Regions from separate parts of the Homo sapiens genome. Here all the other regions are linked to region 2. The links come from fine-mapping of genetic effects on gene expression. A gene starts in region 2. Each other region holds a variant in brackets. All regions are shown on one strand. Distances are from middle to middle.

Evidence for each region. PIP is the estimated chance that this variant, and not a neighbour inherited with it, causes the effect.
Region 1: its variant is fine-mapped to the expression of LPP in whole blood (INTERVAL, PIP above 0.99).
Region 3: its variant is fine-mapped to the expression of LPP in skeletal muscle (GTEx, PIP above 0.99).
Region 4: its variant is fine-mapped to the expression of LPP in whole blood (INTERVAL, PIP above 0.99).
Region 5: its variant is fine-mapped to the expression of LPP in whole blood (INTERVAL, PIP above 0.99).
Region 6: its variant is fine-mapped to the expression of LPP in whole blood (TOPMed, PIP above 0.99).

What each region holds. Positions count from the first base shown.
Region 1 is chr3:188,903,128-188,907,217 of GRCh38, reverse strand. No RefSeq gene overlaps it. Among named protein-coding and RNA genes, the nearest start is that of TPRG1-AS1, 42 kb to the left of the region's middle. The variant G/A (reference allele first, on the strand shown) is at 1,646.
Region 2 is chr3:188,152,445-188,156,534 of GRCh38, reverse strand. LPP (LIM domain containing preferred translocation partner in lipoma) reads right to left here and starts at 2,378. Exons shown (of 12, transcript NM_001375462.1): 1 at 2,283-2,378. LPP-AS2 (LPP antisense RNA 2) reads left to right here and starts at 2,447. Exons shown (of 1, transcript NR_036497.1): 1 at 2,447-4,090. RefSeq lists enhancers at 245-1,143, 2,943-3,843 and a silencer at 2,171-2,510.
Region 3 is chr3:188,350,573-188,354,662 of GRCh38, reverse strand. All of the region lies in intron 3 of LPP (LIM domain containing preferred translocation partner in lipoma), which reads right to left. Among named protein-coding and RNA genes, the nearest start is that of FLJ42393, 170 kb to the right of the region's middle. The variant G/A (reference allele first, on the strand shown) is at 2,184.
Region 4 is chr3:188,881,765-188,885,854 of GRCh38, reverse strand. LPP (LIM domain containing preferred translocation partner in lipoma) reads right to left here. Exons shown (of 12, transcript NM_001375462.1): 12 at 1-4,090. Among named protein-coding and RNA genes, the nearest start is that of TPRG1-AS1, 64 kb to the left of the region's middle. RefSeq lists enhancers at 2,489-2,988, 2,989-3,490. The variant G/TTTTTTTG (reference allele first, on the strand shown) is at 2,123.
Region 5 is chr3:188,870,541-188,874,630 of GRCh38, reverse strand. LPP (LIM domain containing preferred translocation partner in lipoma) reads right to left here. Exons shown (of 12, transcript NM_001375462.1): 11 at 1,868-1,988; 12 at 1-280. The coding sequence ends at 152. Among named protein-coding and RNA genes, the nearest start is that of TPRG1-AS1, 75 kb to the left of the region's middle. The variant C/T (reference allele first, on the strand shown) is at 1,660.
Region 6 is chr3:188,623,465-188,627,554 of GRCh38, reverse strand. All of the region lies in intron 7 of LPP (LIM domain containing preferred translocation partner in lipoma), which reads right to left. The region is part of intron 2 of LOC124906316 (a long non-coding RNA gene); the gene reads left to right. Among named protein-coding and RNA genes, the nearest start is that of LPP-AS1, 57 kb to the right of the region's middle. The variant A/C (reference allele first, on the strand shown) is at 1,614.

The DNA.
Region 1 (4,090 bases), 750 kb before region 2:
TTAGACACGTAAAAACAGAAACAATGTAGCATCTAGCATGATCTGTGCTGTAAATATGCCAGCCATTAGGGTATCTTAGAGAGAGGTGGCTAGAATCCAGGTATCAGAAGAGCACCAAGTCTATTCCGTAAAGATCTGAAATAAAGAGAGAAGTGCTAAAACAAGAAATTGGATAAAACATGAACAATAGGGACCCGGTAACTGAGTGCAGAACCAGCTAAGCAGGACCAGATGTTAGGCAACAAATGATGTGTATTTGGGTGGAAATAGAACTGATCTAGAAGAAAAGAGAGAGTGTGCACAAGGGTCAGAGCATGTACAGCACAGGTAGGCTCCTGGGGAAAGTTGGACTGACACCGCCAGCAAGCCACGAGACGTGGTTCAGACCCTCTGCTTGAAGGCCCCTCTGTTGACTGGGATTCGGTGTGATACTGCTAATAGTTTTATAATGTCCTAATTATTATTATTATTTTGCACCTTGAAGTGACTTTTTGAAGGTCATATTGAAGCTACAAATAGGCCCCCAGACTCCACAGATTCTCCTGTTGCCTAAGGACTCCCAACACTGCAGATCGAGAAGACGAGGCAAAGAGAGCTACACTGTGAACTACGGATGTGGTGGGGAAGTGGAAACCAAGCCGACATTTGGTGTGTTGTAGCATTCCCAGCTCTGGTTTAACACAAGCGATGTGTTTTGCTCACAAACTGGCACTGAGAGCTCATTTCCATTTAAATAAGAGGCTTGTTAATGCCAGCAGGAGGACGCTGTCAATGCCAAGCCTGGCTAAGGATTCCTGCCAAGGAGTTTCTAAGAGCATCGCTCTAGGAAACTCCCCCAGAAGAGAAGCAAGCATGCCTTCTCATTAAGACAACTCCACCACAGTGACATTTGCCTCAGAGCGGCAAGCCTTTGGCTGGGCTGAAAGCAAGTTGTTGAGTCTTGGAAAGTTGTATGTTGCCAAGACAGTCGTTTAGTTCAATTTGGCTCCACACACACTCAGAGACCACCTGGCACGTGTGAGATGCCCTGGTTGGGAGGATGGCTCATTCCTGCCCTCTGGCACCTCCCAGTCACATTGGGAGGACCGGGTGTTATGAAGAAGCACATACAGAAGATCCTGTTACAACGTAAATAGAGGGCCTTCTCCATTGTCAGATAATTCAGTATTGGAAGATTCTTCCTAACATTAACAGGAAACATGTTTGTCTACAGCAGATATCATGTACTCAAATGCCTACAGATGCCAAGCAAGAAACATGGATGGGTGAAATGGGCTGCTTATAAAAACCTTCAGAAGTGGCTGGGATTTTAGTAACCTAGAGTGAACCTCTCTAGTCTAAAGGGGCAAGCACTGCTCAGCAAGATCTGATCTTGGGTTTTATAAACATGGGTCTTGTCCTACGCAGCTTAAAAATTAATGGGGAAGTCAGATCATTAGACATGAATTTCAACACAGTTTATAAGTTCTCTAACAGGGAAGTAAAAAGTGCTGTAGAAGCACTTGATAGTAGCACATAACCCAAAATTTAGGAGTCATGAAGGAATTGATGTTTAAGTTCAACCTGAGTGATAAGCAGAAGTTGCCTAAATAAAGATGGGTGGGGTGGCCGGGCACATGCCTGTAATCTCAGCACTTTGGGAGGT[G/A]GAGGAGGATGGATCACCTGAGGTCAGGAGTTTGAGACCAGCCTGGCCAACATGGTGAAACCCCATCTCTACTAAAAATACAAAAAATTAGCCAGACATGATGGTGCGTGCCTGTAATCCCAGCTACTCAGGAGGCTGAGGCAGGAGAATTGCTTGAACCAAGGAGGCAGAGGTTGCAGTGAGCTGAGATCACGCCATTGCAATCCAGCCTGGGAGACAAGACTATCAAGAAAAAAAAAAAAAAAGATGGGTGGGGAGAGAGGGAAAAGCAAGTGCAAAGGCCCTGAGGCAGGAGAGAGCAAAATAGGTAAACTAGCAGCATTGAGATTAAGTAGAGGAGTGAAAAGATCAGGACTAGTGCTGGTTGAGTCTTCTAAAGGTTCTTATCCCAGTTCTGATAAAGGAAGTAGCAAGGTAGATAAGAGTTCAAGGCCGGGCGGGGTGGCTCACACCTGTAATCCCAGCACTTTGGGAGGCCAAGGCAGGTGGATCACGAGGTCAGAAGTTTGAGACCAGCCTGGCCAATATAATGAAACCCTACCTCTACTAAAAATACAAAAATTAGCTGGGTGTGGTGGCACTCCTGTATTCTCAGCTACTGTGGAGGCTGAGGCAGAAGAATTGCCTGCATCCAGGAGACAAAAGTTGCAGTCAGCCAAGATTGCACCACTGCATTCCAGCCTGGGCGTCAGGGTGAGACTCTGTCTCACAAAAAAAAAAAAAAAAAAGAAGAGCTCTGGACTTGAAGTCAGAAGTTTCTATAAATAGAACCCCTGGGCTGTGGTTCCATTTATACCACTCTGTGAACATGGTACATCTCAGTTACCTCTCCTGGAAAAAAGGAAGAATATATATCAATGTAGGTGAAATAATGGGGAAAAAAGAACTGTCCTACCATATTGATTATATGGTAACACAGTAAATGATTATTAAAACTTTCCTGTTAGTATTTTTGACAGTATGTATCCGAAGCCTTAAGAGCATGAATTTTCTTGTACCTAGCAATTCGTTTCTAATTATTTAGCCTTTAAAAAGTTAAGGATATGTGCACATATTCAACTACAATGGTGTTCAATGTAGTTTTGCTTATAAAAGCCCCCCAAAAGCATAATTTAAGCGTCTGCTGACTAGATATTTCTAAAGTCCTTTATTCTACTGAGATCATTTTGGCCTTTAATATTTAAACAAGATTGGATCAGCCAATTTTCTTATGCAGTGAAAACCTTCTGACCCAAATACCAATATCTCTGGCGATTCTTGTTTTCCTACTCGCCTCTGCCTCCAAATTCTGTTTAATTCTCTATCCCTACTCCATATTTCGTACCTGTCCCTGCTGTCCCTTTTTTACAATGTATCACCCTGCATAATACAACCCACCCCAAATATCCTTTACTCTTCCAAGTACCTGGGCCACAGCAAGGAGTATGATCAACTTTTTTCTGAAGGTTTGTGCAACGGAAGGGTTAACATCCCAACAGACAACTACCTTGCCTAGTGGGGACTCCTCTCCCCATGTCTAAGCCTCTTTCCATCTCCTCCTGTCTTTCTTTTTCCAGGATTCCTTATTCTTGGCCTCTTCTTTGGCTACACATCCCCAAGCTATTTGTCTTACTTTGTATTTTTCAAATTCATCTGGCTCTCCTTTTCAATTCTACCTTAGCCTAACTGAGATTCATGAACAGGTTCTATGCAGGCCCTTACCTATTAACAGCACAGAGGAGTCAAGAGGTCTTGATTTAAGATTCCCCTCTCTCTTTCTTGTTACCGCAATGGTCTCTGTAAGTGAAAGGAAACAGTATAAGTATTTGTTTCTCTATTCATATGCAGTATGCTAACCTTCTCCTATTTTTGAAGGCAAAATTGAGACAATGTTTTTTTTAATGCCCTTACTACCCTTGGAAATAATCTCAATGTCCAAAAACTGAGGGTTAAATAAACCATGGTACCACCATGCTATGGAGCACAGCAGAGCTACTAAGATGATGCTATAGAACAGGTATCAACATATTCAGGATACGGTTAAGGGAAAATCTTCAGGATATACCGTTAAGTGAAAAATGAAAATATAAAACTATATATACTACAACTCCATTTTAAGATATATGTGTGTAGGCTGGGTGTGGTGGCTCACATCTGTAATCCCAGCACTTTGGGAGGCAGAGGCAGGAGGATTACAAGATCAGGAGTTCGAGACCAGCCTGGCCAACATGGTGAAACCCCGTCTCTACTAAAAATACAAAAAATTACCTGGGCGTGGTGGAGGGCGCCTGTAATCCCAGCTACTTGGGAGGCTGAGGCAGGAGAATCGCCTGAACCCGGGAGGTGCAGGTTGCCATGAGACAAGATCCCACCACTGCACTCCAGCCTGGGCGATAAGAGCAAAACTCTGTCTCAAAAAAAAAAAAAAAAAAAAAAAAAGATATATGTGTGTATACAAATATAAAC
Region 2 (4,090 bases):
AAATTATTACCTCTCTCATTGGAATTGGGCAGCAGGGGGCTTCTCGATGCCAGTACCTCCCCTCTAAATCATGTCTCAGCCTGCTCAAAACCCTCAAATGATGAATTTAAGATATATCCAAACTCCTTAGCCTGGCATTTTTAAGCCCCTTTATAACCAAGTTTCCTCTCCCGTCCATCATTTCCTGGAACTGTCTTCACCAGAATGTGTCACTCTAAGAAAGATCCTACTCAAGTCCCAGCCACAGCAATCAGCTCATCAGCTCAGCTTCTCCTCCCTCTGCGTACACTCAAAACCAACTCTAGACCCATGCTGCTTACAGAGAGCCTGCCTCTGGGGGGACTGCCAGACCCTAAGGCCCCAGGCTTTTACCCCTACCATTCAGAATAGGTAATCCCCTCTGGAGCCTACATTCTAGACTATAAAGTTTTGGGTGTTGGGGTTGGGGCCTGCATTGTAGAAATTAAATGCAAAAATGCACACTCTCCTTTGTTTGTTGTTGTTGTTTTTTGTTTTTTTTGAGAGGCAGTCTCCCTCTGTCGCCCAGGCTAGAGTGCAGTGGTGTGATCTCAACTCACTGCAACCTCTGCCTCCCGGGTTCAAGCGATTCTCCTGCCTCAGCCTCCCGAGTAGCTGGGACTACAGTTCCCCGCCACCACACCCAGCTAATTTTTTGTATTTTTAGTAGAGACAGGGTTTTGCCATGTTGCCCAGGCTGGTTTCTAACTCCTGAGCTCAGGCAATCCGCCCGCCTTGGCCTCCCAAAGTGCTGGGATTACAGGCGTGAGCCACCGTGCCTGGCCCACACACTTTTTCCTTTAACTGCCCCCTGGTGCTGGCAGGAACTGTGCAAGCAGAAAAACTGGTGACGAAGTGGAGAAAACCATATTGGATGTCCTAACCCCCCACTGTCCACCATTATTGACCATAGGCTCTAGGTCTAGCACCCACCTTCGTGGACCTTTACCTATTCTTCTATCTATAAGAGTTGAGGAAGGGGGAGGATGGGAGAGGGAGCTAGATGCTTTGTAAAGGTGCCTAGCCACACTTTCCCCTTCTTCACTTTAGGCTTTCTTAAAATGCACATGTGCAGGGAAAGGTAAGCCATTAAGTCATCAACACCTTAGTGAGAGTGAATTTTACAGGAAAGGCAAGAGATTTAGTAAAAGGGGAAGGAATGGAAAGAGAAAGGGGACTGGAAACACAGTTAAGTGAGTTTGGTACTAGCAAAAGCCCCAGAGAAGACCCTGAGTTCTCGCTAGTTGTTTTGTGTTGGGGGAGGGAAAGCAGTGGATCCCTTCTAAGGGAAGGGAAGCCAGAGAGATTTTTCAGTTCTCCTACGACTCCGAGGTTCCAAAGACTCTGCCCTGTCCAAGCACCCAGGCACAATTCCACTGATTAGCTCATCTCATATCACAACCTCCCCCATCCCCAACCCCTTGCCTCCAACTAAAGAATATTTATACTTTCATCTCCATTTCCCACACTACTTAGTCTTCTCTGGCCCACGGTTCCCTCGAAGAGATGTCTTCCTCCAAGCCGCTAGCTGGCTTCAGGAAACTCCTCAACCTCCAAAAACCCCATTCAGTGCAGGACTCTCCAAAAGGCCGTCCCAGGGACCAGAAAATCAAACCCCCTCCCTGGAACTTCCTTTAACTTTGTCCACGCCTTTGCTCCAGCACTTAGCATTTTCTACCCTAGGCCAGGTTTGACTCCCAGGTTCAACTGAGTTCCTTGAGGGCAACGTCCAATACACCCAGCACAGGGTCTGCCACACACAGGGTGCTAGAGAAATGCTTAGAGAAAGGGAACTTAAGTCCGGAGCCAACTATTTGAATTATGGTCTGGCCTCTAGTAAATAACTTCCGGGCGACCCTCCTTCTCTCTGGGCCTCAGCTGCCCCAACTGTAAAATGGGAGGACTTGGAGGACTGGGTCTAGGCCCTTTCCGCTGTGACAACTGTGATTCCGCGAAAGCTCTAAGCGGATGGGCGTGGCCCCGCCCCCTGGGCGCCCAGAAAAGTCCGGGCAGGGGGCGCGCAAGGCTCCAACCCCGCCTAGCCTGGGGTCGACGCTTTTGGAAAAACTCTGGGTCCCCCTCCCCCATGGCGTGCACCCCGTGATTGGGCCGCGGCCGGCACTTCCGCACAGCGGGCCAGGCCAGAGCAGGGCGCGCGCCCTGCGCTCTTGCCACCCCGGAGGCGCTCGCGCCGGGGGAGGGCTGGGGGTTCCCGAGGCGCCCGCGGGTGGAGGGTGAGGGGAAGGAAGGATTTGCAACAATACCTCAGGGAGGAGGCAGCCGGGGCAGCGGCGGTGGTGGTGGCGGCGGCGGCGGCGGCGGCGGCGGCTGGAGGCGGAGGCAGAGGCAGAGGAGGAGGTGCCCGGGCACTCCCCCTCCCATTGTCCCCAGCCCCGGACAGGCCCGGCCCCGCGCCCCACACTGGCCTCCTCGAGCGCGCCGCCCGCGCCCAGCGCCCCACGCCCCGCGCCCCGGGCCGTGCAGCCAGCCCTTACCTTGCAGCGCCCGGCTGTCTCCCGATCGCTAAAGCTACTTATCCCGGGAAAGCTCGCGCGGGACCCGGGAACGAACCCACAGACAAAAAGTGAAACTTCGGCAGGGCTGGAGCGGCTGCTGGTTGGTGCCTTTCCCCCTCCTTCCTCCCCACCGTCCCCACCCCCTCCCCTTGGTCTCCCGTGCGGTGCCCTGAGCGCTGGAGGCTGACGTCAGGGGCCTGAATTCCTGACTTTGCCTGCACGCATTTGTCCATGTAAGGTATGGGAAGGCGTGTGCCCGCGAAGCCGCCGCGCAGAGCTCGCCTGGCGGGGGAGGGGAAACCCGCAGCCGGCAGTGGCTTTGCCAAAAGGTGGGCGCACTGAGGGCATTGCATTTCCTGGGAGGAAGAGGAGGAGACGCGGGAATGCAGGGAGCTTGCAAAGGAGGAAGAGAAAGAGGGAGATGTGGAGACTTTGCCCCTGCTAGAGGAAGAGGAAGGAGACGTAGGAGGAAGCGGCCGCGTCAGGGGGCTCCTGGAAAATGGAAAAGCCTGCGTCTACTATTAAGGCGTCAAATTAGGGCACTGAGCTTGAGTGGAAGAGATCCAGCCATGAAATCCCCTTCCAAGATTTTCCTCGTGAGCCCCGCCCTGGATTCCCAGCAAGACTCAAAACTTACAAGGTGTCAGAGCTGGCAAAGACCAACTTCCAACCCGTCCGCTTGGCACGTGAGGAAACTGAAGCTCTCGGAAGAGAAATGACTTGTACAGGGTCGTCACTCAGCAGATCGAGGAGCGGGCCCAGGCGCTCTGCCTCCCACTTGGGTTCCCGCCTCCAGGAAGGGCCCTGGCTCCCTTTTAGCCCTGAGCCTTGAAGCAGGTTAGATGCCCGCGAGCTGTGCGGACCACCCAGTGATTTCTACTGCTCTTGGCCCAGAGCCAGTTCCTGGAAGGTCCTGGTTGACAGCGAGCCCTGAATATCAATGACAATCAGTTGCTTCAGGGCAACTTCCTCTGTCCTGTGCTCAAATAAATGAATCCCTGGAGTTTAACGTTTACTTCTGAGCCCCGCCCAGAAAGCTTGCTCTGTGCTTATAGCTTCAAAAAAGTCTGCGAACGAGATGAACTGGTTTGAATACAGACAAGCCTGTCATTGGAAGTTTTGAGTTGGATTTTTCTTTCCCCTCTGACATCTGTAAGGGTGAACGACGATGAGAACCACCACTTAACTGTGTTAGGGGATTATGACGCGCAGCAGCCATGGCCAGGAAAGCATTCCATACCCTGAGACTTCCTTTCCTTGCACTTCTCTCCTATTAATATCTAAAGTAATCCCTCACGTTAGCACATAATGAAAGCAGTCTCTCACCCGGCTATTGCATCTTCAGGTGAGTTAGATAGGACAGAGCGTAGTCCCCCCTTTACACCTCAGACAAAAACTTAAGAAACGTTACTCGCCCAACACAAAACAACTGACTGACCAAGCACCTGTCTTCCCCTCCTCCCATCCAGGTCTCCTGACTAATCCCTTCATCTTTCCATACCTGGCCCTGACCTCTAGCAGGACCTAATTCCATTCATAACTGTTGAGAGTACACC
Region 3 (4,090 bases), 200 kb before region 2:
TGAAAGAAACTATAAAGATAGTGTTTGGTTTCCATCTAACTTCAAATAATATAATTTTCTAAAGTTTCACTTTGCCTAAAACTGTAAAAGAAAAAAAACATCCATTCCTCCCCACTAAAAACCCAAGTCTCAATATCAACTTTTCTTTGGTGATTCCAAAGTTATTATATACATTGAAAATACAGAAAACTTTATTTTAAAAACCATAAAGCCACCACACAGAGACACGCACACAAAGTACAGAAATAGGCCCACATGCATCTCTGTCTTACGTATTCAACTTTCCCTCTGGACATTATGCCATTATTATTCAAATTATTCTCCTCCTTAAAAGCCTGGAAAGGTACAAAAAAGAAGCATGAAACCTGTATTTAACAAGATGTTACATTCACTACAGATCAGCTTTGCCTCCGTACTGAAATTTAAATTAGTCAATGGTGTTTTTCCTGAGAATATACATTAAAAAAAGAAGACTGCTCGACATTTGTGTGTGTGTGTTTTTCTTTTCAGAAAGAATATAGAATGTTATCAACAAACCTCATCTAAATCCTATAAAAGTTAGGAAAGTATAATGAATGTCATCTAATGAATATGGCAAATATTGAGAAAACCTACAGAACATCAATATCAGACAAAATCTGGGTTTTAGCTGTAGCATTTAAAAATTCCTGCATCCTTTTTTTGAAACCAAAAAAAAAAAAGTGGTCTAGTTTTGTTCTCAGCTTAATTAGTCAATTCATTTAGGGCAGAGTGCCTTTTTCTTTATATTACATATGTGCCTAAATTTGTTAAAAGTTAAAGGAGTCTTACAAACTAGTTCAAGGCTTATTTCAAATTAAGGAAATTAAAGAAGACAGAAATGCAGTATTTTCCTTCTGGCTTTACTGAAAACAAATCAGCTAAAGTGTTACCCAAAGCATAACAGCATTTAAACCTGAGGCCCCATAATTCTTTTCCCAAACTCATAAGGAGGCAGATTACAACATAAAAAGACTGAAGACTCCTCAGCAGAAGGCTGAACCACTGTCAATGAAGTAAGACCTCTTCGGTATGTAGTGGGGGAAAGCAGAAGTAACATTACAATATTTGGAGACAAAAGATCTAAATGCAAATCAAATCTCCATCACCTGTTCCTAGAGGTAAATTTGAGCAGTCAATTGAATTTTTTTTCTTCATTGTAAAATAAGGATAATAATAGACAGTGTATTGGGTTTATGAAAAATAATCACACATAAGAATTCTTAACAAAATCTAATTCGGTGAGAACATTTTTCCACAAAATAATCATTTGCCAATTTTCACCAGCAATTAGTAAACATTTTTTAGAGGTCATCCGAATCCAACTAAGTTCAACTCAACAAAAACTTACTGGATGCTCATCCTGTGTTTAGATCTCTTCCAGGTGCCTGATTAAAAGGTAGGGCAAGAATAAAAAGTGGAAGGGAGAAAGGCCCATTTAAGTCACAATTTCTGCTCCCGAGGACCCTGTAATCTTGTGGCGGAGACCACATTTCACATATAAACTATTGGAAAAATACTTGACATTATACAGTACTCCAAAAAAAGCATGGTACTGACAATGAACGGCTCTTGTGGAAGTTTTAGGTGAGGTCTTACGTGAGGTCAGAAAAGGGTTCAGAGCAGTGAGAACATGGCATTATGATTATCTATCCCAGCCCCTTTAAGCACTCACTTCTCAAGGAACCCATCTGCGGAATCTGATAAGAAACATTCTCCCCCAGAAAAGTTTCTGTGGATGGACATGTTAGTGGCACCTTGGCCATTTACTCTGGGCTTCTTACTCTCCTTCACTTTCCCGTCGCTGCCTCTGCACTGAGTTACTCTCCGTGTCTTCACCTTCTCTGCCCACTCCTAGGCACGGCAGTGTCACCAGCCCATCCCTCTGCAGCTTTCAGGACTGAAGTGCGCACTCAGGCAGGGCTCAGTGCCGTGCATGCAGCTGGAACATCAACAAGCAGGGAAACAAGACCTGACCTCCTCTCCCAGCCTTCTCTCTATGCACTCTGTGGCCTTGAGCAAGTCACCTCCGCATAATGCGCCTCACTGTCCTCACACATCAAATGAGAGTACGGGATATTCACAAGCCCTTCTTGCTCCTAAACATTCAATGTCTGTGCCTGATCTACAGTTTCCAACCGTTTCCAAGTGGCAACTGAGGGCTC[G/A]CCAGTCACACAGCTCCCGAAGAGGCACTGACGTGACCACATCAACAGCTTCTATTGTGGGGAAGGTCAGCGACTCCTTCAGAAAATAGCTGATCTAAACAGAGCCCAAGGAGTGTCATGGCAACACCGCTCACAAGCTGCCAAAGGTGGGGAGAAAAAGCAGCCAATACGTGTGCGCAGCTGCCACATTTCAGAACAGCAATCAAACCTCGTTAATATCATCTTGCTTAATACCAAGTCCCATAGATCATAAGCTATTTTTATTGTGTATTTAACAGATTTGTGTATTGTCTTCCCTGCCAGAATCTTCACAGTCCAATACAGAAGACTCTGCCATCACAGAGCCTTAAGACCTGCGGCCACCCAAGGTTAAGTCAGGAGAAGGAGGAAGGGGAAGAAGCAAAAGTAATAGAAGAAAAATGACAAGGGGGGAGGAAATAATACACGTTGAGGTCGAGGCTAGCTAGGGAAGAGGCAGGAGTAAAATGTAGTAAGTGCAAGTAAAAGCCAATGCTACAGACACTCAAGAACGAGGCACTCAGGTTGCAGCTCTCCAAAGACTCAGATGTATGTGTGGAAAGGAGAGTAGAAGAGCTCAGTCTTCTGGTACACTCGGGTGACCACAAGTCCCCCAACGCCAATTTTGATCACAACTTCTGCTTATTTTCACAGTCTCTACAATCCATATCCCTTAGAAGAGCCATGCATGCTACTCTGCAGAGCCCTACACCCGTGTTCTAGGAGGGAAGCATCTATCCACTACCGAGTGCCTTTCAGAGCTTACAGGAAAGAGCTTCTGCTAAATGTCCTATTTAGAAACAATCTGTCTCCCTCATGGAGGAATGGGAATTCTAGCTTTTGATGACTGACCAAGCTAAACTATGTGAAAACACCTGTCACAAGGCCTGTCACATAACAGACATACAATGAATGTCTACTTCTTTCCATCTGTTTAATACAGCAGCAGCAGCACCTGTATTACCTTTATTCTTAGTGGTCTTCATAGAAACAAGGACTCCAGACAGAGCCTGTAGAGTCCTAAGAAGAGACTCAAGTGCCAACCATCTCTCCAATGCTTGGTGAGATGTGGGCACGATTTGCAGAACTGCCACTAACTATGCAGGCAAATTTAAGTAAGTCATTTCTTCCCTGGGGTGGGGGAGCTGGACTAGATAGGTTTTAACTTCCTTTCCAGTTCCGAAATTCTTTAAGCCTATAAGTCTCATATCCATCTCAGAAACAAGCAATAGGCAGAGAGAAAAACTATTGCAGAACATAGTCATTTGCTTCTCTACTGAGCACTATGTCTGGGGCCCTGTGCCAGGAGCTACAGGGAACTCAGAGAAGCAGAAAGTAATCCTTAAATTCAAAGCCTTTAAAATATGTATGAGGGATGAGATGGGGGTGGAAACATGGAAAGATGGCAATACAAAATAAAGTTTAATTATAAAACAAAGTCCATTGCTAAGACTGAATTCCAGAGCCAAAGAGCAGACAGGGATGACTTTCGTGGGAGAAGGGGTACGTGCTGGTTCCTCAGGCAGGAAAGCAAGGCCCACACAGGCAAAATGGCAAGGGGTGTATTTTATAAGAGCTGGCCCTCTGTGGTGGAAGGGTGATCAATATCTGGGATAGTTAAATCTCTTATTCGTTTTATGTCTTAGATTCCCTTAACATCCTATGTTTCATACATTAAAAACTAGAATAATAATGTCCACCCCACCTATCTTCATCATAATGCTCTGTGGACAGTAAGAAGAATATAAAATAGAGGCAGGACACCTGGGTCCCAGGCCTTGCTCCATTGCTGCTATTCTAGTGCCAGGATTTTGCTAAGTGGATAACCTGGCTGTGTGATAAGAGACTTTGTAGAATTTCAGCTAGAGTTCTTGAGGCTTCCTGAGAAC
Region 4 (4,090 bases), 730 kb before region 2:
GAGATACCATCTCACACCAGTTAGAATGGCAATCATTAAAAAGTCAGGAAACAACAGGTGCTGGAGAGGATGTGGAGAAATAAGAACACTTTTACACTGTTGGTGGGACTGTGAACTAGTTCAACCATTGTGGAAGTCAGTGTGGAGATTCCTCAGGGATCTAGAACTAGAAATACCATTTGACCCAGCCATCCCATTACTGGGTATATACCCAAAGGATTATAAATCATGCTGCTATAAAGACACATGCACACTTATGTTTATTGCGGCACTATTCACAATAGCAAAGACTTGGAACCAACCCAAATGTCCAACAATGATAGACTGGATTAAGAAAAGGTGGCACATATACACCATGGAGGTGAGGCACTTTTCTAGTCTGTGAACGTGCATCTCAACCAAAGCCACCACTCTCCCGCTCCCATTAATGTCGCCCTTATTCCTCAGGCATGAGGACTAGGAAGGGGTGAGAAGTCATTTGCTATTTAACTTGGCTCTCATTAGTCCCAAGGAATAAGCAGGTGGATGATGATACTGGCTTGATGGATGATAACACTCCAGGGAGGGAAATGCATAAAACACTTATCAGGTGTGATTATTTTAAAGGATTCTTAGATTTAATGCAGGAGATTTAATGAGAAGAAATGATATTTTTTCTCTCACTTCACATATTTTAGGATATAGCAAACAATGAAAGGAGTGAAATGAGAGGAAATAAAAAGTGGAAAGCACACCCTAAAGGTACAGCTTCCTGAGGGACGCAGCTCAAGAGAAGGAACACTTGCTTGCTGAACTGTTACGTAGAGCAACTTCTAGAGCATACATGGAGACTTTCTAGGAGGTTTTTTGAAAACAACATGGTACCAAATTCCTTGTAATTATAAAAAATCACAAAATGACAGCATCCTGGGAAGCAAAGTCTATCAAATGGCAAAGGCCAAATCTCAGAAATGCCAACAGTTCCATAACATTTGTTTTCAGACATTGTTAGCTCATGGATCGGCTCTATCGGAAATGCCTGTTGCAGCAACATGCACGTGGTGTGCTCTCAGTAAATGTGAATGGAGAGAAAGACTAAAATGCATTGCTAACCTACGGCGGTTTCTGCCTCTGTGGAACGTACATCGTGGTTCATGGGAGAGAGGCTTCTTTTAGGAATCGAGTCACCTCTACATGCCAATGAATTCTAAATGATATGGTCTTGGTTGATATTCTGAACCTGACAGTTCCAGAGAGGTTTTTGGTGAATGGAATGTAAAGGAACTCTCTCTGGGGAAATTTATTGCAATGTGCTTCCTTCTGCCCATTGTTTGTTCTTATCAGTGGCCTTTTCCCACCAACTTCCTCACAGTGCTGATCAGACAGAATACCTAGAGGTTTCCCACAAGAAGACACAGATGTGTGCAAGCTCTAAATGATCTCTAAAGACCGCAGTACACATGTGGATTTGCCACCTGGCAGTCAATTGGTCTCTGAATTTCCCTGGATGACTGGGGGCTTGGTAGTCTGTAAGAAGTCGATATTGTCCTCTAAGGTGTTCTCAGCTGTGAGCGTGGCTACTTGGAGACAGCACTGGACTTGCAAGACCTGGTTATATCCCCAAATCTGCCACTTCCCAGCTATGTCACAGCTTTTGGCAAGTCACTTAATGGCTTGAGCCTCAGCTTTCTCTTCTAGAATAGGGGTACTAATAACTGTCCTCCCTGCGCTATTTTCTGTGTGGAAGCAGTTTGTAAGCTCTCTTAGGAATTACTATTTTACAGCTCAGAAAGTTACCTCCAGGTCCTGCCCAGGAGACTGATGGCAGTTTCTGCTTACAGTGCTCTCTCATTCAAAGTTGGGGTAGAAGAAGCCACAATCATGGTCTTCCCCATGACAAAGGTATATTATTTAAACTAAATAGTCATCCAGAGCAATGAGGAAAGCATTTGTACATTTCCATAGAAAACTATAGCATAATAGAACCCCTCTCCTCAAGAACGATATCCTTTTCCACAGATGAACTAACTAGAAATAATGAGTTTTCGGCAATACCACTATCTTTTGCTTTTGACTTCTTCCTTGTTAGACATGGGGATTATACACCAATATTTCCCAACCTTTTTTTTTTTTTTTTTTTTTT[G/TTTTTTTG]AGACGGAGTCTCGTTCTGTCGCCCAGGCTGGAGTGCAGTGGCGCAATCTCTGCTCACTGCAACCTCTGCCTCCTGGGTTCAGGTGATTCTCCTGCCTCAGCCTCCCAAGTAGTTGGGACTACAGGCGCCCGCCAACACGCCCGGCTAATTTTTGTATTTTTTTTAGTAGAGTCGGGGTTTCACCATGTTGACCAGGATGGTCTCGATCTCTTGACCTCATGATCCGCTCGCCTCGGCCTCCCAAAGTGCTGGATTACAGGCACGAGCCACCGCGCCCGGCCCATTTCCTAACATTTTTAAGGTCATTATCAACAAGTCAGATAAAAGGGGTGTACTGTTCATGGGTTAGTTACTGGGGAAGGCATGAAGCTACACAACAACTGTCAGAACGGTCTGTCTTCTAAATAGGAAAGTACAACCAGCAACAAAAAAACTCACAAATTCTAATGTCTGGCCCTCAGAACATCCTTCAGACTAATTTTAGAGATTCTTAAAAATTCAAAAAAGTAATGCAATGCCCAAAACAAAACAAATATATATGGAAGGAAAAGGAGGGGGGAAGCAACACTGTATCATGTACTACAGGTTTTGTGTGGCACCAAAGAGAACATATGCCCCAAAGGCTGGCTCTGTTTTAAAGTCGTGTAGCTTGGAACAAAATGTGCTGAAAGAAATGTAAGACCTCAAGGAATAATGAGCTCCCTGATACAGGTGATGTTTAAGTAGAGTCAGAATTGGCACTTTGGGAGGCCGAGGCGGGCGGATCACGAGGTCAGGAGATCGAGACCACGGTGAAACCCCGTCTCTACTAAAAGTACAAAAAAAATTAGCTGGGCGCGGTGGCGGGCGTCTGTAGTCCCAGCTACTCGGGAGGCTGAGGCAGGAGAATGGCGTGAACCCGAGAAGCGGAGCTTGCAGTGAGCCGAGATTGCGCCACTGCACTCCAGCCTGGGCGACAGAGCAAGACTCCGTCTCAAAAGAAAAAAAAAGAATTGGCACTTAGCAATGAATCTGTAAGGGAATTTTAATACCAAGTAGAAAAGATGGCTGGGAAGTCCTTTCTAATAATGGACTCAGACTCAATAGGAAAATAGAGATGTCCTGCTTGTTCTTTTGTGGAGGGTCAAAGGACATGTACCCTTGCTGCAAGAATAGAAGATGTAGCTGTGGATCAATAAGAATGCTCATATTCTGTGATAATAAAGTTCATGGAGGGCTGCTTCCTGTCCATACTGTGCATGCTGGGTTATATTTTGGCAGATCATCTTCTCTTCCAATTATAAAGAGATGGGAAAAGCAAGTAAATACTTCCTCAGGCTTCCTCTATGCCTTTTTCTTCCCATTCAGCCTGATTATTTGGAAGCCTTTTTTTTCTGTTAAGAAGGAATTTCCAGAATCCATGATATTTTGGCCAATGCAGAGGGTCTTCTCTGAGTATAGCCCATGTTTCCCTGTTGTGCCTTAAATACTCTTTTCTCAACTTCTAAATCAAGTCAAAGAATCAGCTCAAGATTTCTTATCAAATTTTATGTACTCCATAAAGTCTTACTAATGTCACTGGAATGACTCTTCCTGATGTCACATTCCTTCCTATTGAGTAAGTACAGATTTAAGTGGTTGGATCTTATTACAGTTGGCCAGAATCAAAGTTACTTAGGGGCTGATTCTCTAACAGTGATTATTTGGTAATTATAAATTGAAGAGCTGAGTAAGAGATAAGGATGTTGGGAGAACAAAAAGAAAAGAAAAATATGGACTCCTAAATGATTAGAGAAAGAAGCTGCTCACTTTTTCTAACATGTAACGTCTCTAGGTACAAATATTTGAGCACAGAATGAATGAATCTCGAAATCAATCAACCAGCAAATATTTATGTATAACCTGTAAAGTGTCCATATATTAAAGTAGAACCTATAAAGTGTTAATATTTAATATGAAAATATGGAGGAAAAATGTCTTATTCTGAA
Region 5 (4,090 bases), 720 kb before region 2:
AAAAAATCTCATAATTTATGTGTTTCTAAGGCAAGGTTAATAGCAGATGAAGAACAGAGACTATCGCGTAGTTTGATGGCCTTTACTCTAGTATTTCTTATCTTTTTCTTGTGTTCGTTCTTCTCAGTGCCGGCTGAACAGGTGACTGAATCTAAAGGTCAGTGCTCGCCTTGGCGGTCAACACCCTGATGCGGGCAGAGTTGCAGGTCTTGCAGAGGATGTGCCCATCCAAGGGGTAGCAGCCTTGGTTATCTCCTTCAGACAGGAGACCACCGCAATCCTAGAACAGTAAAGACAGATGGAAACGACATAAGTAAAAACGTTAAGTACACATGTGGAGAACATCATGATTGAGCTTTCTATTCAAGGCCTCCATAATGTGGCCACTTACTATCCTTCCTGCTTTACATTCTGCTAATCCCCTGTATCCTTTCTCCCAATATATAACATAGTATATCTTGAATGTAATTGAATTAGAGATTGGGGACATAAATATAAATGGACATAAATATAATCCTCCTAAGCTCACTTGATATGAAATACAGGTATAAGAAGAGAAGAGGCCACCCATCTTGGCTCCCATGTAGAAGTTTGCTGCCCCCACTCAACAAGAGAAAATAAGAATGTCCCTAACCACCGATGCATTTTTTACCCTTTACCATTAGTTTAAGGATCTCTCAAAATGCATGCACAGGTACAGGAATGGAATGTTTTGGCCATTTCTGGCCTAGAGCAAAGGTAGACTGATGTCTGCCAAGCAGAAGGGCCACCAGTGGGTTCGGTGTATTTACTTCAACTGCAGTAAGAAAATAAAATCCTAAAGTTTGTGGGGAGTAGTGGTTTGCTGTACTTTCTAAAGGAGACAGCATTGTGGAGAGCAAAGATTGCTAGTCCAGGGGACAGGCCTCCTGAGCACCACCCACAGTTTTGCTACAGTCTGCCTCAATGCACACAGGCCGACTGCCACTCTGAAAATAACTTCTGCCTTTTCTACCTTACCAAGCTGTTAAGAGGATCAAAGAAGATAATGGATCAAAAAAAAAAATGCAAAGAACTGCATAACTGTAAAGGAATATACTACCGCTGACAGCTCCTCTTAGGGTCCATTTTGAAAAGTGTTATATAACAGTTAAATGCTGGCCTTTGTCTTTGGAGAAAATAGAAGTTTCTTTGGAAAATAAATACATAGTACTTCATCAAGAGGTGTGTGTTTGCTAACTTTAGTATAAACTCTCAAAGGCCACAACAGCTATGAACCTCGCCTCTGCTATCTACCATGGTGGCAAGGAGGTCAATGGAGTTCATGTCTTCATTTGACATAGAATGAAATTTAAGTTAACGGGGTATCCAGAACACAATAGCAGCAATGGTTATACTCTGCGGGAAGTTTGGCTTTACTGAAAAGAACATGCAGATATACTGCAGCTCTAGAGGCGTTCAGGAAACTGAGCAATTAGTAGTGCATGCTAACAAATAAATAAATCTCCATGACTCTGAACAAGAAGTTCTAACCAAAGCCTCAGAGCCAAAGTTAAATGTTCAATAACACCATTTCTCACTAATTTAGTATTTCACAATTTACAATGTCCTTTAATATACAATTTTGTATTTCACTCTCACAGCCATATTTGGAGGAGTTAAGGACTTGAGTCCTTTCTT[C/T]CGGTGAGCAAGCAGACTGAGAGAGGTACAGTGACTTATTCAACAGCATGTGCTCGGAATACTAGTGTCAAATCTAAAACCCAAGTCCTATGAGTACAGGCACTAAGGCCGTTCTGAGATTTAGTAATTGCTACATCTATGTAAACCTAGCTCGAACGAGCCTTTCAACGCCTGCCACAGACTGGCAGGGCAGGGCTGTCAACCAGACCTCGCATCGGTAGCAGTGAACATGGAAATCTCGATCCAAAGCCACAATACGGACAGTCTCCTCCTGGCCCGGGGCTGGCATAATAGGCTCCTTGCACACAGAACATCGCGGGGCAAATTTCCTGAAAGTGAAGAGAGAGTTCTGGTTAGATACTGCGCGTCGACACTGAGGTGGGACGCAGAGGTAAAAGGAAGAGGTGGAAACTGAGAGTCGGTATACCTGCTTCCTCATCCGTAAGGTGAGGGAGTTAGACTCAGGGACTGTGGAGGTTCTTCCATCAATCGGTGGTAAATATTGTGATATTTGGCGAGGTGAGAGAGTGAGCGTGTGAATTGCTTGGGCATGAAGAGCATCTAGCATCTCTTTCCTGCATGGTGCGCGGTATGAAATTCATCTTTAGATAGATTCTGAATGCAAACCCTGTGCTTGGGATAGGCTAACTGGAGGAGAGAACAAAGTCCTGTCCAGCCCCTATTTGTTTCTGACTTTTGTTTCTAGACTTTTGTATGCACTCCTTAGGTCCTAGAAAAATAGTCTGAGGTTGGTATCTTTGCCTTGTTCCCACCTTTTAGAGCTTCTTTCTTGGAAATTTGCCTTGACTTCTAGGAACTGACATAAGAAGACTCAAATACATAGCTTTTCAAAAGGGCAGAGGTTAGTGCGTTTAAATATACATTACACAAAACTTAAAAGTGGCCAAGTCTGCATTTCCTACATTTTTTATTGTGTTAAACTTTTGCTTAAAAATTAAAAGTTAAAGAGCTATCAAATTCTTTATTCTTTAAAGGATTTTAGCACTGTTAAAGGGTGAGTGTATACTAACACACATACACATACATATACATATAAATATGCATATGCATATGTTTTTGAGGCTGCTGGTAAATACTTTTAATACTTATTAATTTCTTAGTATTTCTCAATATGATCAATGGTACCTAACAATTTTTTTTCTATGACAGGTTAATTGGCTGAAAATATAAGCCATGTATCTCTCTGTATCTTCTGGAAATTGGAGATGGTATTTGTGAAGGTATGAAATGACATATTATTTGAAATGGACCTGGATAAGAACTGAAGAGATTTAAAAAAAGAAAAACAGACTGTGACTCAGTTTTTTCATGGTACTGGTTTTAAGATAAACGATGTTAAAAATTTATCTATTTGTAGTGAGACTTAAAAAGAAATAATGATAATAATCTAACTCTTTGCAGAGCACGTTACGGTTGTCAAAGCATTTCTACATACATTATATTCTATATGTAGGTAATTAATTTTCCTGGCAGCACCCAAAAAGCATCTGTATGGCTGCAATCTAAATAAATATGAATTAAGCAGCAGATCAATTGATTGCTGTGAAAGAAAAGTTAGAAGGATCATGGTACCACTGCAGCAGTAATCAGAGTTGTTATAATTGGTATTTTATGCAAGAAGTTTATATTCAGTGGCAAAAAATTGCTTTGGACTACCAGATTATTTTTAAATCTGGGTCATCAGTGGTGAAATAAGTAGGCTTCTGGGATCAACTGCAAAATTTCCTTTCCCCAAACTCTGTGGGAGCAGAAGTATGTTTTCCTTTTCAGTGTATCCATAAGCCTTCTCCAATTTCCCCAAATAGAATTATTTACTCCTCTAAGATAAGAATTCTGTCATTGAATTTATCCATTTTGGTAGTAATTATTTGGATATATTTATGGGGCACTAAACTCTAAGTTTCCACAAGATAGGACTTTGCTCCATCTCTGAGTCTCCAGGAACAACCACTGTGACTGGTGCAGAAAAAAAAAGTTGGGCTGTATCTAATGAAATGAATCTGCCATATTTCTGTATAAAAAAAGATATTAGTTGGGCTTTATGTTCAATCTCAAGGTTCTTCCTCTTTGGGAAGACATAAACTGTATTCTTGCTGAGTAATGATTCTTTCCTACCAATTGGCCTCATTTCCATAATGAGAAAAACCAAAGCGAAGAGGCAGGAGGTGGTTCTCATAGTCCCCACAGTGTTCCTCCGATAGCAATTCGAGGAGGGCTCACAATCCCAGGTGGTCTATTTCAAGGCTTAGCTCACTGAGTGGACAATAATCGTAAAAGTAAATTTGATGAAAACAACTTTCGATGATTAAAGCTACCATTTATTGAGTGCTTATTATGTGCCAAGCCCTGTTAAGTGCTGTACACACTTGACGTAATTTTCTACTGACAGCAACATTATGAGGAAGTATTT
Region 6 (4,090 bases), 470 kb before region 2:
TGCCCTTTTTTTGTCCTTTTGAATCATTGTTGGTTTACAGTCTGTTTTTTCTGAAATAGAATAGCAACCTCTGCTTTATTTTGTTTTCCATTTGCTTGATAGAGCTTTCTCCATCCCTTTATTCTGAGCCTAAAGGTGTCACTGCATGTGAGATGGGACTCTGGAAAACAGCATAGAGTTGGGCCTTGCTCCTTCATCCAATTTGACACTCGGTGTCCTTTAAGTGGGGCATTTAGCCCACATAAATTCAAGATTAATACTGATATATAAGCATTTGATCTTGCCATCATGTTGTTACCTGGTTCTTATGTAGACTTGATAGTATAGTTGCTTTATAGTGTTAGCAGGCTATGTACTTAAAGGTGTCCTTGTAGAAGTAGGTAACAGTCTTTCATGCTTATCATTCCCTTAAGGACCTGTTGTAAGGCAGGACTGGTAGTAATAAACTCTCAGCATGAAATTATCTTTGTATTCTCTCTGCAGAAAATATTATGAAATTAGGTTGTACAGTTAGTTAATCAATGAATATGCTGCTAAAAATGTAAGAAAAAGTAATCAGGAATTTAATTCATAAGAGTGTTATTTTTCAAGATTTTTGTGATTTTTGAGGTATTTCATAGCTTTTATTAATGTGATTTTTGAGGTATTTCATAGCTTTTATTAATTTATAACATGTTGCATTTCCTCTGTCATTTAAAATAAATGTTCATTTGCCTACATAATTGTTATGAGCTGAGTCATGTCTCCCTTCAAATTAATATGTTGAAGTCCTAACCCCTAGTATATCAGATTGTGACTGTATTTGGAGAAAGGGCCTTTAAAGAGGCCATTAAGTTAAAATGAGAGCACTAGGGTGGACCTTAATCCAATACGACTGGAGTTGTCCTTATAAAAAGAGGGACTAGGACACAGAGAAGCAGAGGAAAGACCATGTGAGGACACAGAGAGAAGGTGGCCATTTTTATCCAAGGAGAAAGCTCTTAGAGGAAAGCAACCTTGTGAGTACCTTGATCTCAGACTTCTAGCCTCTAGAATTGTGAGGAAAAAAAAATCTGTAGTTTATGTCACTCAGTTTGTGGTACAGTTGTCCCTTCATATCTGCAGGGGATCAGTTCTAGGACTCCATGCAGATGCCAAACTCTATGGATGCTCAAATCCCTTATATATATGATATGCTATACACGTAACCTACACATATCCTCTTACATAGTTTAAATCATCTCTAGATTAGTTAAAATACCCAATACAATGTAAATGCTAGGTAAATACTTGTTATATTGTATTTTGAAATTTGTAGTATTTTCTAATATTTTATTGTTACTTGTTATTTTTTACAAACACTTTCCATTGGCAGTTGGTTGAATTCTGAATGCAGCCTACTTGAATATGAAGGCCTGACTGTATTTTGTTATAGCAGTCCTACCGAAATAATATAATACTTTTATGCATACAGAAGTTATTTCCACAGTGATAAGCTTCAAAGCTTCAGGTTTCATAAAATGTGAATATATCTTAACACACACACACACATACTTATAAATTAATCTCACTGCTCATTATTGAGAGTATTAACTAAAATAGGTAAGGCCCATTCGGTTTGTTAGAAATCCTTT[A/C]TTTTTGCACATACATTTTTACAAATGCTTTCCATTTAACAGCCATTTACATCATAACTACCAAATGGTTAACAGACTTGAATCATTTAATCACAACATTTATTTGGCTTCTGAAATATGTGCAACCTTATCATCTATGGAGTCACTGTCTGCAGACACTTCTTGGATGGAATACTAAGTAATACCTAAATATTAGTCCAGGTCTCTTATTCAGTTTCCTGTTTAATGAATTTCATGTTTATCAATCTAAATGTTAAGCAACTGGAAATGGGCATTCTATAGGCAGAAAAGTTGGAAACTATGATTTCAAGTTCCACATATTTCATATTGTTGATTCTGTATATAAGGGACAAAGATTCAATGATCTATATAGTATGAAAAATTGGAAAACTGACTTGCCTTCTCCGAAATGTTTCATCATCTGTAAAAGAGGATGAATATGCATTATCTCATCATCTCAGTGAGTTCTTTTTTGAGGACCAAATTCACAATGGTTATAAAAATGTGTCCCATTAAAATGGTTTTACTGTTATTTTATCAAAGACAGTGATAAAGTATATATCAATGTATTATCTTAAATATCCCAATACCAGAGGTTTTATGGATTTTTGTTAAAGTCCTAATTATACTGTGAGGCCTTGGGTAGTCATTCTGTGGGTCTTAGTTTTCTTATGAATGGGCAAGATGGCATCTTTGAAAAGCAAAGGCAACATATTTATTTCATCTCTGAAGGTCTAAATATCAATGAATTTCCCATCATTGAACAAATATTTTGGGGTAGCTATTATGTTCTAGAAGAGTATTGACAAAGTTATGTCTTAATTTATAGGACATTTTTATGACTGAAATTAGATAACCCTTAAAATAGAAAACTAGACATCTGTCTTTAATAAGAAATGCTAACACTAAGAATAAAGGGATATAGAAACCTAAGACTTCCCTCACATGATAACATCTTGCTAAAGGAAATAGAAATCATGTGGTTAAAAAAGAAAAAAAAGGAAGAAGGAAAGAAGGAAGGAAGGGAGGAAAGAAGGAAGGAATGAAGGAAGGGAAAATATTTGCAATCTTATCTGTAGAGTCACTGTCTGCAGATTATTCTCAGCACACCAAAGAAGAGAGAAAGAGAGAGAAGGAAGGAAGGAAGGAAGGAAGGAAGGAAAAGGAAGGAAGGAGAAGGAGAAGGAGAAGGGAAGGGAAGGGAAAGGGAAAGGGAAAGGGAAAGGGAAAGGGAAAAGGAAGGAAGGGAAGGGAAGGAGGGAGGGAGGGGAAGGAAGGATATTTCTACTTGACTCCCTATTAATAGTCTGGTACTAGAACTCACAGAACTGCCACAGAAGGCTGAACAGTCCTGGGCTTTTCACATGATCAGGTTCGCACTTCCATGGTTCTCCCAAATATGGCTTTCTAAACAAACTTGGACTAGGCTCACTCACTTGGCATTTCTCCTGCAGGAATGCAACTCAATGTTCTATCCAAAGGTTTCAAGAACGACAGTTTTTGGATGTTTATTTAATCCTCTCTCAAGCCGTGTTTGTTTTGAATAAATGGCAAATGTGATTAGTAAATGGAACATTCATTTTGTTAGACTGCCTCTAAACTCCAGATATAAATGGGCTGGATTTTACAGCTTATTTTAACATTTCCTTTTTCCTATACCCTTTCTCTGATCAGCTCTTCAACGGTGATATAATTTCTTTTAATGCAAATGTACAAAACAATGTTAGTCCTGACTTTTGGCAAGCAGTTCACAAGTTTGGGTGAAAAGACATTGCTCTTGAAAAACAGGTCATTTTTAGTTTTGCTATGTCTTTCCTTCTCACTAGGACATATTGTGCTGATGCAGAACAATGGAGCTAAGGAGGTCTTTAGCTTGTCTTGCATCTATCAGAACTCAGCAGTACTTTCCTCTTTGAGGTTCAATGTTATTGGCTAAAATTTTTGATATTCTGCTTAATTCCACTCTATAGCCCACCAAATACACCCCTCGCCTTGCCGGTTGATTCATAGGTACTTGGCCAGGGCAGGCTAGAAGATGAAAAAGGAAGAGACGACCTGAAGCTCTGTATTAGAGAAACAACTAGGAGGATTGTCTGGCACACACCCGCCCAATGGCCTCATGTTAAGGAGCATCCTCAGCAGCTTAACATATATGTCCTGCTCAAGATAAAAGATAACTAGGTTTAAGACTTAAAGTTGAGTTGCTGCACAGCAGTGACAATTTGAGTTGCTGCACAGCAGTGACAATTTTTTAAAACATACTTTCGCAAGCAGGCAGTGTAGTATAATGGGTATAAACTTGAGGCATGCAGTCTTCAGCAAATAATTTTTTCCCTTTCTCAGTTTCTGACTCAGTAAAAAATCAAGATGTTTATAGTATCTTCAGCCGGGCACGGTGGCTCATGCCTGTAATCCCAGGACTTTGGGGGGCCAAGGCGGGTGGGCCACTTGAGGTTAGGAGTTCGAGACCTGCCTGG